Linked DNA regions of Homo sapiens: region 1 is linked to region 2. Evidence: fine-mapped expression QTL. A gene starts in region 2. The other region holds a variant in brackets. All regions are shown on one strand. Distances are from middle to middle.

What was found. PIP is the estimated chance that this variant, and not a neighbour inherited with it, causes the effect.
Region 1: its variant is fine-mapped to the expression of CASP2 in T cells (TOPMed, PIP 0.95).

The regions. Positions count from the first base shown.
Region 1 is chr7:143,088,766-143,097,104 of GRCh38, reverse strand. No RefSeq gene overlaps it. Among named protein-coding and RNA genes, the nearest start is that of PIP, 39 kb to the left of the region's middle. The variant G/A (reference allele first, on the strand shown) is at 3,327.
Region 2 is chr7:143,285,176-143,293,491 of GRCh38, reverse strand. It overlaps CASP2 (caspase 2), which reads right to left and starts at 5,141. Exons shown (of 11, transcript NM_032982.4): 1 at 4,963-5,141; 2 at 1,802-1,952; 3 at 1,025-1,192; 4 at 794-875. The coding sequence starts at 5,036. TMEM139 (transmembrane protein 139) reads right to left here. Exons shown (of 3, transcript NM_001282876.2): 1 at 8,047-8,316; 2 at 7,290-7,551; 3 at 5,444-7,068. The coding sequence starts at 7,534. The coding sequence ends at 6,663. TMEM139-AS1 (TMEM139 antisense RNA 1) reads left to right here and starts at 7,158. Exons shown (of 3, transcript NR_133932.1): 1 at 7,158-7,515; 2 at 7,654-7,774. It also overlaps the pseudogene RN7SL535P. RefSeq lists a silencer at 4,765-5,514 and an enhancer at 7,309-8,316.

The DNA.
Region 1 (8,339 bases), 200 kb after region 2:
GAGAGAACTAAGGATCATAGAAACTAATTAATGTACCTAAGGTTATACAGGAAGTAAGTGGCCAGGTTAAACTAGGTTTCTGTAGTTACAAAAGCCATCTACTTCTCATTACACCATGTTGCATCTCTCAATTTAAAATTACAGTTTAATTGTAGATCCTTGAGGAATTGCCACATTGTCTTCCACAATGGTTGAAGTAGTTTACAGTCCCACCAACAGTGTAAAAGTGTTCCTATTTCTTTGTAGGGACATGGATGAAGCTGGAAACCATCATTTTCAGAAAACTATCGCAAGGACAAAAAACCAACCACCACATGTTCTCACTCATCAGTGGGAGTTGAACAATGAGAACACTTGGACACAGGAAGGGGAACATCACACACCGGGGCCTGTCGTGGGGTGGGGGGAGCGGGGAGGGATAGCATTAGGAGATATACCTAATGTAAATGACAAGTTAATGGGTGCAGCACACCAACATGGCACATGTATACATATGTAACAAACTTGCACCTAGTGCACATGTACCCTATAACTTAAAAGTATAATAATTTAAAAAAAAATTTAAAATTTTAAAAATTTTAAAAATAAAATAAAATAAAATTACAGTTTAAGATTACAGCTCTGTGCGAAAAGTTTAGGACTATTTCCAACCTGGCAGCTCAGTTAAGTACAAGAAGATGAACCAGTCTGCATTGCCCAGTGGAATTTCCAAAGGAACCAGGAGGAAGAGGTGGTTTGTGAGCCTCTTCAGGCCAGCTGGCAGAAGGTCCCAACACGCCCTCTTAGCCTTTCAAGATGTCCTTTTAGACAGATTTTTCTTCTGCAGGAAAAGTCAACAGTAGCTGCACAATGGCAAATGTCATGAATGTGCCCTCAGGACAGGAGACAGATTGTTCTTCCTGGTTTTATAGGCAAAATAATGTGCTTGTGTCAGGGATCAATTTAATCCACCTATCTTCACTTGCTTGCCATTTCAACCTCTTAAATACTGTGAAATAGTTGTCACTGAATCTCCATTTGCCAGTTTGGCACTACCCTGATCCAAGTACCCTGCCCTTGCACTCCAACCCTGTATTCAGTCTTGTAGTATCTCTAGGGAGTGACCCCAGACACATTCCCTGGGTAAATTTTCAGGGCTCCAATTCCATTGGTGAATGGTCGTTGATAGAAAGCCCCATGTGAACCAAGAACTTCATCTGTCTGGATTGTACACACAGAAATCTCACCCACGCTTTTCATGTAAATGTCTGCCTCCCAGCCCTGGACACATTTTGAGATAATTTAGATAAATAATTGATATCACACCTTGGCATTTCTGCCCACTTTCTGCATTCCACCGTCTTGAGGATGACTACCTTATCCTGGTTTGCCCAGAACTTTCTGAGTTTTGGCACTGAAAGTCTTCTATCCTGGGAGACTCCTCAGCTCTGGACAAATCAAGGTAATAGACCATTGCAATTACTATTTTGTCTCGGATTCTAGCTCACAAAGTGCTTCAGCACTCAGGTTAATTTCTAGGGGCCTTGTTCCATTGTGATATTTCTTTAACACTTTATTTATTTATTTATTTTTCCATAAGTTATTGGGGTACACATGGTATTTGGTTATATGAATAAGTTCTTTAGTGGTGATTTGTGAGATTTTGGTGCACTCATCACCTACACAGTATACAACTGCACCATATATGTTGTCTTTTATCCCTCACTTCCCTCCCACTCTTCCCCATAAGTCCCCAAAGTCCATTGTATAATTCTTATGCCTTTGTGTCCTCATAGCTTAGCTGCCACATATCAGTGAAAACATACGACATTTGGTTTTCCATTCCTGAGTTACTTCACTTAGAATAATAGTCTCCAATCTCATTCAGGTCAGTGCAAATGCTGTTAATTCATTCCTTTTTATGGCTCAGTAGTATTCCATCATATGTTTATATCACGGTTTCTTTATCCACTTGTTGATTGATAGGCATTTGGGTTGGTCTCATGATTTTGCAACTGTAAATTGTGCTGCTATAGACATGTGTGTGCAAGTATCTTTTTTGTATAATGACTTCTTTTCCTCTGAGTAGATACCCAGTAGTGAGATTGCTGGATCAAATGGTGGATCTACTTTTAGTTCTTTAAAGAATCTCCACACTGTTTTCCTTGGTGGCTGTAGTAGTTTACATCCCCACCAGCAGTGTAGAAGTGTTTCCTGATCACCACATCCATGCCAGCATCTCCTGTTTTTGATTTTTTTGTTTGTTTGTTTATACAAGCTTAATCTATTTATTCAAAATATGAATCATCAATATAATTTGCCACTAGTATCTCATTCAGTCCCTTCACTGGACACGTAATCCACTGGGAGATAAGAGATTAGCAGCTGGCAGGCAGTGATGCACAGCAAAAACAAAAACCAAGAGGTGAAATAGTTCTGAAATAAAGAAGGTTTTAAAGCTAAGAGAAATTATTGAATTACTAAGTCATTACCACTAATTTTGAGCCAACTAACTAATTAATATGAGATGATACAACGTCCTATGCTTTGGTAAATACAAACTATGTTTAAACAATGTCTGTAATGTGACTTTCAAAATGCTTCTGGCTTTACAAAGATGTGATTAAAATGTAGTAATACATGATAAAGCATTTACCCCTGCAGAGCATGTTGTAATGTTCTTTTTTATTTTATTTTATTATTATTATACTTTTAAGTTTTAGGGTACATGTGCACAACGTGCAGGTTTGTTACATATGTATACATGTACCATGTTGGTGTGCTGCACCCATTAACTCATCATTTAGCATTAGGTATATCTCCTAATGCTATCCCTCCCCCCTCCCCCCACCCCACAACAGGTCTCGGTGTGTGATGTTCCCCTTCCTGTGTCCATGTGTTCTCATTGTTCAATTCCCACCTATGAGTGAGAACATGCGGTGTTTGGTGTTTTGTCCTTGCGATAGTTTTCTGAGAATGATGGTTTCCAGTTTCATCCATGTCCCTACAAAGGACACGAACTCATCATTTTTTATGGCTGCATAGTATTCCATGGTGTATATGTGCCATATTTTCTTAATCCAGTCTATCATTGTTGGACATTTAGGTTGGTTCCAAGTCTTTGCTATTGTGAATAGTGCCGCTATAAACATACATGTGCATGTGTCTTTATAGCAGCATGATTTATAATCCTTTGGTTGTATACCCAGTAATGGGATGGCTGGGTCAAATGGTATTTCTAGTTCTAGATCCCTGAGGAATCGCCACACTGACTTCCACAATGGTTGAACTAGTGTACAGTCCCACCAACAGTGTAAAGGTGTTCCTATTTCTTGACATCCTCTCCA[G/A]CACCTGTGTTTCCTGACCTTTTAATGATCGCCATTCTAACTGGTGTGAGATGGTATCTCATTGTGGTTTTGATTTGCATTTCTCTGATGGCCAGTGATGATGAGCATTTTTTCATGTGTTTTTTGCTGCATAAATGTCCTCTTTTGAGAAGTATCTATTCATATCCTTCAACCACTTTTTAATGGGGTTGTTTGTTTTTTTCTTGTAAATTTGTTTGAGTTCATTGTAGATTCTGGATATTAGTCCTTTGTCAGATGAGTAGGTTTCAAAAATGTCCTCCCATTCTGTAGGTTGCCTGTTCACTCTGATGGTAGTTTCTTTTGCTGTGCAGAAGCTCTTTAGTTTAATTAGATCCCATTTGTCATTTTTGGCTTTTGTTGCCATTGCTTTTGGTGTTTTAGACATGAAGTCCTTGCCCATGCCTATGTCCTGAATGGTATTGCCTAGGTTTTCTTCTAGGGCTTTTATGATTTTAGGTCTAACATGTAAGTCTTTAATCCATCTTGAATTAATTTTTGTATAAGGTGTAAGGAAGGAATCCAGTTTAAGCTTTCTCCATATGGCTAGCCAATTTTCCCAGCACCATTTATTAAGTAGGGAATCCTTTCCCCATTTCTTGTTTTTCTCAGGTTTGTCAAAGATCAGATAGTTGTAGATGTGCGGCATTATTTCTGAGGGCTCTGTTCTGTTCCATTGGTCTATATCTCTGTTTTGGTACCAGTACCATGCTGTTTTGGTTACTGTAGCCTTGTAGAATAGTTTGAAGTCAGGTAGTGTGATGCCTCCAGCTTTGTTCTTTTGGCTTAGGATTGACTTGGCGATGCGGGCTCTTTTTTGGTTCCATATGAACTTTAAAGTAGTTTTTTCCAGTTCTGTGAAGAGAGTCATTGGTAGCTGATGGGGATGGCATTGAATCTATAAATTACCTTGGGCAGTATGGCCATTTTCACGATATTGATTCTTCCTATCCATGAGCATGGAATGTTCTTCCATTTGTTTGTATCCTCTTTTATTTCATTGAGCAGTGGTTTGTAGTTCTCCTTGAAGAGGTCCTTCACATCCCTTGTAAGTTGGATTCCTAGGTATTTCATTCTCTTTGAAGCAATTGTGAATGGGAGTTCACTCGTTCACTCATGATTTGGCTCTCTGTTTGTCTGTTATTGGTGTATAAGAATGCTTGTGATTTTTGTACATTCATTTTGTATCCTGAGACTTTGCTGAAGTTGCTTATCAGCTTGAGGAGATTTTGGGCTGAGACGATGGGGTTTTCTAGATATACAATCATGTCATCTTCAAACAGGGACAATTTGACTTCCTCTTTTCCTAATTGAATACCCTTTATTTCCTTCTCCTGCCTGATTGCCCTGGCCAGAACTTCCAACACTATGTTGAATAGGAGTGGTGAGAGAGGGCATCCCTGTCTTGTGCCCGTTTTCAAAGGGAATGCTTCCAGTGTTTGCCCATTCAGTATGATATTGGCTGTGGGTTTGTCATAAATAGCTCTTATTATTTTGAGATCCATCCCATCAATACCTAATTTATTGAGAGTTTTTAGCATGAAGGGTTGTTGAATTTTGTCAAAGGCCTTTTCTGCATCTATTGAGATAATCATGTGGTTTTTCTCTTTGGTTCTGTTTATATGCTGGATTACATTTATTGGTTTGCATATGTTGAACCAGCCTTGCATCCCAGGGATGAAGCCCACTTGATCATGGTGGATAAACTTTTTGATGTGCTGCTGGATTTGGTTTGCCAGTATTTTATTGAGGATTTTTGCATTGATGTTCATCAAGGATATTGGTCTAAAATTCTCTGTTTTGGTTGTGTCTCTGCCAGGCTTTGGTATTAGGATGATGCTGGCCTCATAAAATGAGTGAGGGAGGATTCCCTCTTTTTCTATTGATTGGAATAGTTTCATAAGGATTGGTACCAGCTCCTCTTTGTACCTCTGGTAGAATTCGGCTGTGAATCCATCTGGTCCTGGACTTTTTTTGGTTGGTAAGCTATTGATTATTGCCTCAATTTCAGAGCCTTTTATTGGTCTATTCAGAGATTCAACTTCTTCCTGGTTTAGTCTTGGGAGGATGTATGTGTCAAGGAATTTATCCATTTCTTCTAGATTTTCTAGTTTATTTGCGTAGAGGTGTTTATAGTATTCTCTGATGGTAGTTTGTATTTCTGTGGGATTGGTGGTGATATCCCCTTTATTATTTTTTATTGTGTCTATTTGATTCTTCTCTCTTTTCTTCTTTATTAGTCTTGCTAGTGGTCTATCAATTTTGTTAATCTTTTCTAAAAACCAGCTCCTGGATTCACTAATTTTTTGAAGGGTTTTTTGTGTCTCTATCTCCTTCAGTTCTGCTCTGATCTTAGTTATTTCTTGCCTTCTGCTAGCTTTTGAATGTGTTTACTCTTGCTTCTCTAGTTCTTTTAATTGTGATGTTAGGGTGTCAATTTTAGATCTTTCCTGCTTTCTCTTGTGGGCATTTAGTCCTATAAATTTCCCTCTACACGCTGCTTTGAATGTGTCCCAGAGATTCTGGTATTTGTGTCTTTGTTCTTGTTGGTTTTGAAGACCATCTTTATTTCTGCCTTCATTTCATTATGTCCCCAGTAGTCATTCAGGAGCAGGTTGTTCAGTTTCCATGTAGTTGAGCGGTTTTGAGTGAGTTTCTTAATCCTGAGTTCTAGTTAGATTGCACTGTGGTCTGAGAGACAGTTTGTTATAATTTCTGTTCTTTTACATTTGCTGAGGAGTGCTTTACTTCCAAGTATGTGGTCAATTTTGGAGTAGGTGTGGTGTGGTGCTGAAAAGAAAGTATATTCTGTTGATTTGGGGTGGAGAGTTCTGTAGATGTCTATTAGGTTTGCTTGGTGCAGAGCTGAGTTCAGTTCCTGGATATCCTTGTTAACTTTCTGTCTGATTGATCTGTCTAATGTTGACAGTGGGGTGTTACAGTCTGCCATTATTATTGTGTGGGAGTCTAAGTCTCTTTGTAGGTCACTAAGGACTTGCTTTATGAATCTGGGTGCTCCTGTATTGGGTGCATACATATTTAGGATAGTTAGCTCTTGTTGAATTGATCCCTTTACCATTATGTAATGGCCTTCTTTGTCTCTTTTGATCTTTGTTGGTTTAAAGTCTGTTTTATCAGAGACTAGGATTGCAACCCCTGCCCTTTTTTGTTTTCCATTTGCTGGTAGATCTTCCTCCATCTCTTTATTTTGAGCCTATGTGTGTCTCTGCACGTGAGATGGGTTTCCTGAATACAGCACACTGATGGGTCTTGAGTCTTTATCCAATTTGCCAGTCTGTGTCTTTTCATTGGAGCATTTAGCCCATTTACATTTAAAGTTAATATTGTTATGTGTGAATTTGATCCTGTCATTATGATGTTAGCTGGTTATTTTGCCTGTTAGTTGATGCAGTTTCTTCCTAGCCTTGATGGTCTTTACAGTTTGGCATGCTTTTGCAGTGGCTGGTACCAGTTTTTCCTTTGCATGTTTAGTGCTTCCTTCAGGAGTTCTTTTAGGGCAGGCCTGGTGGTAACAAAATCAGCATTTGCTTGTCTGTAAAGGATTTTACTTCTCCTTCACTTATAAAGCTCAGTTTGGCTGGATATGAAATTCTGGGTTGAAAGTTCTTTTCTTTAAGAATGTTGAATATTGGTCCCCACTCTCTTCTGTCTTGTAGAGTTTCTGCCGAGAGATCAGCTGTTAATCTGATGGGCTTCCCTTTGTGGGTAACCCGACCTTTCTCTCTGGCTGCCCTTAACATTTTTTCCGTCATTTCAACTTTGGTGAATCTGACAATTATGTGTCTTGGAGTTGCTCTTCTTGAGGAGTATCTTTGTGGTGTTCTCTGTATTTCCTGAATTTGAAAGTTGGCCTACCTTCCTAGATTGGGGAAGTTCTCCTGGATAATATCCTGCAGAGTGTTTTCCAACTTAGTTCCATTCTCCCCGTCACTTTCAGGTACACCAATCAGACATAGATTTGGTCTTTTCACATAGTCCCATATTTCTTGAAGGCTTTGTTCGTTTCTTTTTATTCTTTTTTCTCTAAACTTCTCTTCTCGCTTCATTTCATTCATTTGATCTTCCCTCACTGATACCCTTTCTTCCAGTTGATCGCATCGGCTACTGAGGCTTCTGCATTCATCACGTAGCTCTCGTGCCTTTGTTTTCAGCTCCATCAGGTCCTTTAAGGACTTCTCTGCGTTGGTTATTCTAGTGATCCATTAGTCTAATTTTTTTTCAAAGCTTTTAACTTCTTTGCCATTGGTTTGAATTTCCTCCTGTAGCTCGGAGTAGTTTGATCTTCTGAAGCCTTCTTCTCTCGACTCATCAAAGTCATTCTCCGTCCAGTTTTGTTCCATTGCTGGTGAGGAGCTGCGTTCCTTTGGAGGAGGAGAGGCTCTCTGATTTTTAGAGTTTCCAGTTTTTCTGCTCTGTTTTTTCCCATCTTTGTGGTTTTATCTACCTTTGGTCTTTGATGATGATGATGTACAGATGGGTTTTTGGTGTGGATGTCCTTTCTGTTTGTTAGTTTTCCTTCTAACAGACAGGACCCTCAGCTGCAGATGTGTTGGATTTTGCTAGAGGTCCACTCCAGACCCTGTTTGCCTGGGTTTCAGCCGTGATGGCTGCAGAAGAGCGGATGTTGGTGAACCGCAAACGCTGCTGTCTGATCGTTCCTCTGGAGGTTTTGTCTCAGAGGAGTACCCAGACGTGTGAGGTGTCAGTCTGCCACTACTGGGGGGTGCCTCCCAGAAAGGCTACTCGGGGGTCAGGGACCCACTTGAGGAGGCAGTCTGCCAGATCTCAGATCTCCAGCTGAGTGCTGGGAGAACCACTACTCTCTTCAAAGCTGTCAGAGAGGGACATTTAAGTCTGCAGAGGTTACTGCTGTCTTTTTGTTTGTCTGTGCCCTGCCCCCAGAGGTGGAGCCTACAGAGGCAGGCAGGCCTCCTTGAGCTGTGGTGGGCTCCACCCAGTTCAAACTTCCTGGCA
Region 2 (8,316 bases):
ATAAACTGTCCTACTAGCCCTTAACAAATTTACTGACAACTGTTCCCAATATAAACTATGTCTCAGCTGGGCATGGTGGCTTACGCCTATAATCCCAGCACTTTGGGAGGCCAAGGCGGAAGGATCATTTGAGGCCAGAAGTTTGACACCAGCCTGGGTAACAAAGTGAGACTCCTTCTCTACAAAAAATTTAAAAATGAGCTAGGTGTGGTGGCATGCACCTGTAATCCCAGGTACTTGGGAGGCTGAGGCAGGAGGAGCCCTTCAACCCAGGAGTTCAACGCTGCAGTGAGCTATGGTGGTGTCACTGCATTCCAGCCTGGGTGACAGAACAAGACCCTATTTCTGAAAAAAAACACAACAAAAAAAAAAAAAAACAAAAAAAAGGGCTCATGTTAGGACAAAGCCAGATACCAGACAAGAAAGGGGAAGTCAATCTGGGACACCCCCCTCCTTTTTATTTTATTTTATTTTATTTTTTGAGACTGAGTCTCACTCTGTTGGCAAGGCTGGAGTGCGGTGGCACCGTGTTGGCTCACTGCAACCTCCGTCTCCTGGGTTCTAGCAATTCTCCTGCCCCAGCTTCCCGAGTAGCTGGGATTACAGGCACCCACCACCATGCCCAGCTAGTTTTTATATTTTTAGTAGAGACGGGGTTTCACCATGTTGGCCAGGCTGGTCTCGAACTCCTGACCTCAGGTGATCCACCCGCCTTGGCCCCGCAAAGTGCTGGGATTATAGGCGTAAGCCGTGGCACCTGGCCTGGGACCCCTTTTAGTCCATCAATTCTCACCTGTCGACAGGCGGAGCTTCTTGTAAAGGGGACAGGACTCACACACCGGAAAAGGGAGACTCAAGTCGTAGTCACAGCTCAACTGTAAGAAATCAAAACTCATGATGACAGACCTTAGGGAAGTGGTCCGGTCCAAATACAACAAAATCTAGTCTCCCTCACTCTGACTTACAAATTCCTTTCCAGTCAAACTAACCCTTCCCAACACCCCATATTACTAAAGCTTCATACCGGTGGGAGTACATGCTGAAGCCCAGAAAGGGTGGTGAGCAACATATCCTCCAGGTGGCCTTGCTTGGTCTCCCTCAGTGCTTCACAGAAGGCATCAAAAGCTTGGGGACCCCTCTTAGGCAGCAAGTTGAGGAGTTCCACATTCTGGCTGAAACTGCCCACTTTGGCCTAAGACACAAGAATAAAACATGAAATCATATTTACTTCTCTAGCTATAATTCTATTTCTCCACATGAGCTTCCTAGTAGTGTCCTCATCCAAGAATTCTTTTTACAGGAAAAGTGTATGTATGGGTGAAGTCCTTTCTGTTATTCTTGAGTTATATATCATTTCTCTCAAATGCTCTACGGTAGAAGGGCATTTCCATTTCTTTAGAAAGGTACAACATCCAGCTGGGTGTGGTGGCTCACACCTGTAATCCCAGCACTTTGGGAGGCCGAGGCAGGTGGATCATGAGGTCAGGAGATCGACACCCTCCTGGCTAACACAGTGAAACCCTGTCTCTACTAAAAATCCAAAAAATTAGCCAGGCATGGTGGCACCTGCCTGTAGTCCCAGCTACTTGGGAGGCTGAGGCAGGAGAATCACTTGAACCTGGGAGGCAGAGGCTGCAGTGAGCCAAGATCGCGCCATTGTACTCCAGCCTGGGAGACAGAGACTCTGTCTCAAAAAAAAAAAAAAAAAAAAGGAAGAAAGATACGACACCCTTTCCATATTTTGTCATGCTCTATTCCCACCCCATGATCAATTTATCTTCTCTCTTTTGCCTCCAGATACCTGGATGAGCTCCCTCATTTCCAAGGTGATGATGTCCTTCTCCAGAAGATGTTCTAACAATTCGCTCAACAACAGCTGTTTGGCTAGCACCACTCGGTTCTTTTTTAGAGTTTCCTGATGATGAGGATGCATGCCACACACTCCCAATATCCTACAGATAAACGGTAGAAGGAAAGGCTGTCAAGTCACAATTTGACACAGAAGAGTGGAGTGGAAGAGGCATGAATAGGAAGAACAAAAAGAATAAGACTTACAATAACCAAGATTATGCATATTTCTTAAATCTGGTTAAAGCAAAGATGTACTAAGCAGGAACACATTGATCATAAGAAAATAATGTCTAATTCCTTATGGTTTATGTTCAGCTGAGATCATCTGAGATGAATGGTCTGACTAGAGGAGGGAAATATCTGTCTTAAGCAAAACAATACCCCCAAGTACACATATTTATGAGAAGGAATACTTCTCTGATAGACCAATTTTAATAAAGAGAATTATTTCAGAAAACATCTCACATTATCTAAGCTGGTGAAAGTGATGTAAGTTTATAATGATCTTAGATGAGGGTTAAAACACTATGGTAAAAACTCAAGCCAATGGCTTTAACAGAAAATAAATGAGGCAGACACTAACTCTCTTTCACTAGTGATATAAACATATAATTACATGTTTTTTAAAACTTTTAAGTTCCAGTGACAAAATGGCGAATCCTGTTAAGATGTGGATAAGCAGAAAGTATGACAGAAAGTCACAGTGGATAGGTATTTATCTATTTACTTTAAAAGAGTCTCACTGTGCCACCCAGGCTGGAGTGCAGTGGCTATTCACAGGTATGATCCCATTACAGAGCAGCACAGGAGTTTTGACTTGCTCCATTTTTGACCTGGGCGGGTTCACCCTTCCTTAGGCAACCTGGTGGACCCTGACTCCCAGGACATCACCACACTGATGCTGAACTTAATGTGGACACGTGACTGGCATAGCACACTATAGCCCAGAACTCCTGGACTCAAGCGATCCACCTGCCTCAGCCTCCCAAGTAGTTGGGACTACAGGCATGTGCTGTCACCTCCAGCTAATTTTGCTACAGGCTTGCAAAGAGATCAGCTTCTGCTTATAAACTAAAATAATCCTATTGCCAATATGTCATCTACATGCCTAGTTTACATAAATCCAGAGTTCTCTAGCCTGCCCCGTCACATTTTCCACATATGTAACAGCAGGAAGGGTGGCACCTGATAGCAGTGAAAATACAATAACTTCCATTTATAACTTAAAAACCTACTCTAAAATGCATTCTGATTTCTAAGGTGTTAAAACATGAGGGGAGGCCGGGCACGGTGGCTCATGCCTGTAATCCCTGCACTTTGGGAGGCTAAGGTGGGCAGATCACCTGAGGTCAGGAGTTCAAGACCAGCCTGGCCAACATGGTGAAACCCTGTCTCTACTAAAAATACAAAAAATTAGCCGAGTGTGGTGCTGCATGCCTGTAGTCCTAGCTACTCGGGAGGCTGAGACAGGAGAATCGCTTGAACCTTGGAGATGGAGGTTGCAGTGAGCTGAGATCATTCCACTGCACTCCAGCCTGGGTGACACAGCAAAGACTCCGTCCAAAAAAAAAAAAAAAAAAAAAAAGGGAGGGAAAAAATGTGTATCTTAGAGTCAGTGAAATACCACACATCTATGGAATGGATGCACTTGGCTTGCAGATGCTATTGGGTGAGAGATTTATAGTTAGAAGAGGGAAGAGCTGGGTCCTGGAAGAACTGGGAGAACTAAGATAGCAGGTGGGATCCTAAAACAGATGAAGTGGGTTGGAAGCAGCCAATGAATCTGAGGTTTGGAAAAATGAGTCTGAAACTCCATTTTTTCTTCTTTTTACTGTAATATTTCCATTACCCAAGACTTTCAGGAAAAACTGGCTACAAGAAAAAGAGCTATACAAATAAAAAAACCTATTTAAGAATGAATCACTTTCGAATACGTCAAAGCAGTAATAACGATCACATATAACACTGCAGCTGGGATACTAACCAGTGGTGCAGCAGATTTCTTCCATTAGTTTACCAGTAGTATTCGCTCCTTAAATCGTTCTCTTCCTCTGGTTTCCATGACAGCATTCTTTGGGAGTCTTCTCTCTGCCTACCCAGTTCCTGTTTTCTTTAGAGGGCCTTTGGCCTGCCCTTAATATTGATATTCCATTAGGGACGCCCCTTCAAAGAGCCTTTCCCTAGACAATCTCACCCATACTTGCAACTTACTGACTTATAGTTCTTAACTCTCTCGAGTTCCAGACTTGAATTTTCAATCAACTCTTTAGTTTTAATCTGAAGCATCACCCCCTCTGCACACCCGCTCCTTCCTCTACTCTGTAGTATGAGAGTCTTAAACGTGAACATTATAAAAGTTTCCAATCATTTAGAATTTCAGGACACAACTGGAAGGGGAGGAGGGGCGAAGGGCACCACGGAGTTCCTACGTCTTAATTCTGTGTCCTTCTGCAGGTTCCCTTTGCGAAGACCTTAATCTTCAGTCTCGAGCAGGAGGCATTACAATGTTCTCCTGGGTGATGACTGCCATGAAATGGAATGACCGGGGCAGAGGCATGGACACTCGGAGCCACAGGAACCCCCTTGTTCTGCCAAAAGTACTCAATTTCCAAACCCTGTATTGACTTCTTTGAAAATCTGGTCATTCTATGCAAAGCCATGCAGATCATGATACAATCGATACAAATCAAATGCACATCAGGCAGAGCACCGAGGTCTGCAGAAGGTCTCGTCGATTTTTAAGGAGACAGAGTATGGTCTTTTTATAGTTTCCCTCATAAGGGAGCCAGAGGAAAGGATGAAGAATCTTCAAGAGAACCCAAGAGCGGGCAGGACTGCAAAGACCTCCCCTTTAGAACCCTCGTGGGTTGAACAAAGGGAGGCTGGGGCAGTCTTTTCCCACGAGAGACAAGGCCAAGAGGTCCGCCCGCGGGCCCTTGCGCGGAGTCAGGCTCGGAGCGGCTCGGGCGGGCGTCCCACCCTTGGCAGGAAGCGCGGACACGGCTGCTTTCCGGGGCTCCGAGGGGAGGGGGCTGCAGGGCCGCACGCCTGGGGGCCACGCTCCCCTTCCCTGGGCTCCCCTAAGGAGCCCTAAGACCGTTCCCTACTTACCTGCGTCCCCTGTCAGCGGCCATCAGCTCCTTGTGCTGGAAGGTGGACCAAGACCCCGCGCTCGGCGCCGCCATTTCCCGCTTTTCCCGGGCTCTCCGCTGCGCACCGCCCACAGCCCAAACAAACCGGGGGCCGTCGCTTCCCCCACATCCCTCCCCTCAGACGCGGACGCACACTGCGCCTGCGCCTGCGCCCTGCCGCGCCCACACACCAGGCCACCCAGTCCCCGGCCCGGTGCGTGCGCAGGCGCAGAGCTCTAGCGGCGGCCGCGCGGTCCAATGGGGTGAAGTGGGGTGCTCGGCGGACAGACAAAAGGAGGGGAAGGAGCGGGGCGGGGCAAAGGGCGGGGAAAGAGCGAGGGCGGGCGGGTGTGCTCCGTTCGGCCTGGGAATCCGATTGGTTATCGATTCCCGCGGAAATCACCCCGGTGCCTCTCGCGCCCCCTGGCCGGCCTATGGCGATAACTTCACGGAGACGGGCGTGGCTGGAGTTTTGCTTTATTGAAGTTGAACGGTTGGGGCCAGGCTGCGAAGGAGACTGAGAGCGCGACAAGGCCCTGGACAGATGCCCGCGCGGGGAAGGAAGGCTGGCTTAGGAGGGGGCGTCAGCTATGGTTTAGCAGCTTCCAGCGACCGAAACCTACATCACAGCCGCAGCACACAATTCCAGGAAACCTGGTGCTCAATATTGGGATCTCAGGAATCAGGACCGGCGGCTGGGGTGAAAGCCTAGCGGTCAGAGCTTAGGAGTGAGGCAGAAGCTGTTAGAGACTCTTCGCAAGTGACCCCGGGGCTACATATGGATGATTCAAGAGGGAGTCTCCTCGCCAGAAAGTTCACATGTTTCACTCCTTCTGGCCTTCATACCAACCCATTGTTAAAACTGGAAGTCCCTCCACCTGGGGTCACTGACTCCACTGTTTTCAGATAGGATGGGGACCCTGCACTGGAGACTGCTCTCTAGCCCCTGGGCAGGAGAGGCACAGACACTGCTACGCACGCGGAGCAGGGATCACCAGCGCTTTGACTGACTTTGCTCGTCCAGGAGGCTGGGGACATGCGTGCCCATGCTCAGCCCACCCCCTCTGTAGACACAATTGGTCGCCCATTCTGTTTATAGGAAGTCTTCCATCCTGCACCAGCAGCTGTCCCTAGACAGGGATTGGGAGACATGCAAGTTGCTTGGCTTCCTATTACCTTGTGTTGAAAACACAATAGGCTTTGGGATCAGGAGTTCATTCCAGTTATTTTAATGTTATTTACTAGCAGTGTGCCCTCGTGCACATTATCAAACTCCTCTGACTCTTGGAATCCTCATTTTTCAATAATAACTCACAAAGCTGTCAAGCCTAAGGGTTCTAACAGCTCGAACAGCACCTGGAACAGAAGCAATAGCCGCCACTCAGAGGTTACTTCTTCCTTCTCCGCCTTCTCTGGATCACCTCCCTACCTCATCCTCAATCTAACGCTGGAAATATTGGATATGGGGTAGGTCACCAAATGTTGCCAGAAGACTCAAATTATGCCACCCATATCTCAGCTGGGAAGGGCTTACCGTGGCCTGACTCTCCTCAGGGTCCAAGTCCCCATTTATGATGTCCAGGCAGAAACACTTGTTTCTGACACATAGTAGGCGCTGGAAAATGTTAGTCAAATGAACGAGGTCTGGTGTGGAGAGAAGAGAAATCTTGGGAGAGTCATTTAAGGGGGTGCCCAGTTGTCCTCATAAAAAACACTATCATCATCAGGGTGACCAAAGCAGACATCATAGGCAGGGGGTGGAGTCAGAGGCTCTAATGTGGGGACTGCCGCCAAGCTCTGCAGATCAGGAGCAGTGGACACAGCCCGTGGTCCCCGAAGCCGAAGGTTGATTGGAGCTCTTCCAGGGCTTCCTTCCTGGGCCATGGACCCCTCTGAGGCCATTCGCCTCTGTTCCAGTTTGGCTCTCCTGGACCCCTCTGGATGGCTAGGTTGTTCCTCCTCAGGTGCTGGGGGTATCACAACAGTGCTGTAGGGGGGTGGTTGGTCCAACTCTTGGGGGCGGCACTGGGATTCTAGTCCCACCACGGCCTCTTCATAGACTGGCACTTCAAAGGCTTCATTGTCCCTGAGGGAAGAGAAATAAGGCCATTGGTGGCTTCCATGAAAGAAGCCCTTTTTCCCTTTTTTTTGTCTGCTGTGGGCAAAAGATCCTCTGTTGGCCTCTGACCCCTCCTCCCGCTGATGCCAATGACAGGAAACCAGAGACTCTCTGCCTCAGAGACTACAGGGAGAGAGGGAGGATGGGCCCAAGGTGTATTCCTCTTACGATGCCCACCCTTAACTCACCGTGCATTGCCTGAGGGCCCTGGGCTCTCAGTCTGCATTGATTGGAGCTGGGACCGAAGCCCCCATTCCAGAAACCGGACCAGGAGATAGGCAAACAAGAAGAAGCCACCCAATGTGAGAAAGAAATAAGCAACGGGGGTGATGTCCGTCTTTATGCCCAGCAAAGCCAGCCCCAGTAGGAAGGAGGCGCAGCACAGGAGGAGAAGCGGCTTCTCCAGTCTCCCCAGTAAGTGCATTGGCACCATGGCCCCTCCCCAGGCTCCTGCAAAAAGACACACAGCTATTGTGTCTACACTAGCAATTGGTGTCATGGCTGTGTCAGATACCAAAGTAACCATATGATATTTCTTTGTTTGGTTTCTAGGTTCTTCAATCTCAAATAAATCATCTGTAGAGTCCCCTCCAGTTCCGAAATTCTCTCTATGTCTTGGAGTGTGTGGAATAGCCAGGAAACCAGCCCAGGAGCTTTGACTCCCAGCCATTCTGTAAGTTGACTGTGTCATGGCTCTGCCTTCTTTCCTTTCTCCTTCCCTGTAGTCTCCCTTCCAGCTTTGTCCCTTACCACCATCCAGGATCCGGTCCTGGGCACGCCCTGCCTGGGGCTTCAGTGCACACTGGCATCTCTGGAATTCAGGTGATGGGGCAGGCCCTGCCCTTCCTCTGTTATTGCTCCTACTGGATCTCCACCCCCACCTCCCCAGCCAGAGGCCCTCAATCCAGCCCCGTTAGAGAGAAGAGGGGAGGGAGCCCCACTTACCCTGTCTGACTCTGTCTTTTCCTTTCCTCCGGTGTTAGCCCATGCTCCAGGTGGAGGGAGAAAGTGCACACAGGCGCACCAAAGCCACAGGGACACAACTGCTTGAGAAACAATTGTACAGGCAAAGGCCCAGCACAATGGCCGGAGGCCCTGATAACTCCTGTCCTCTTCTAGACCCCACATCTGCCAGGGCCCTCCTCTACCCTCTGCTGATCCTAACTTGTTAAACTCAGTTTGCAAATTTCCTGCCAGGAGGTAGCCCAGTGGCTG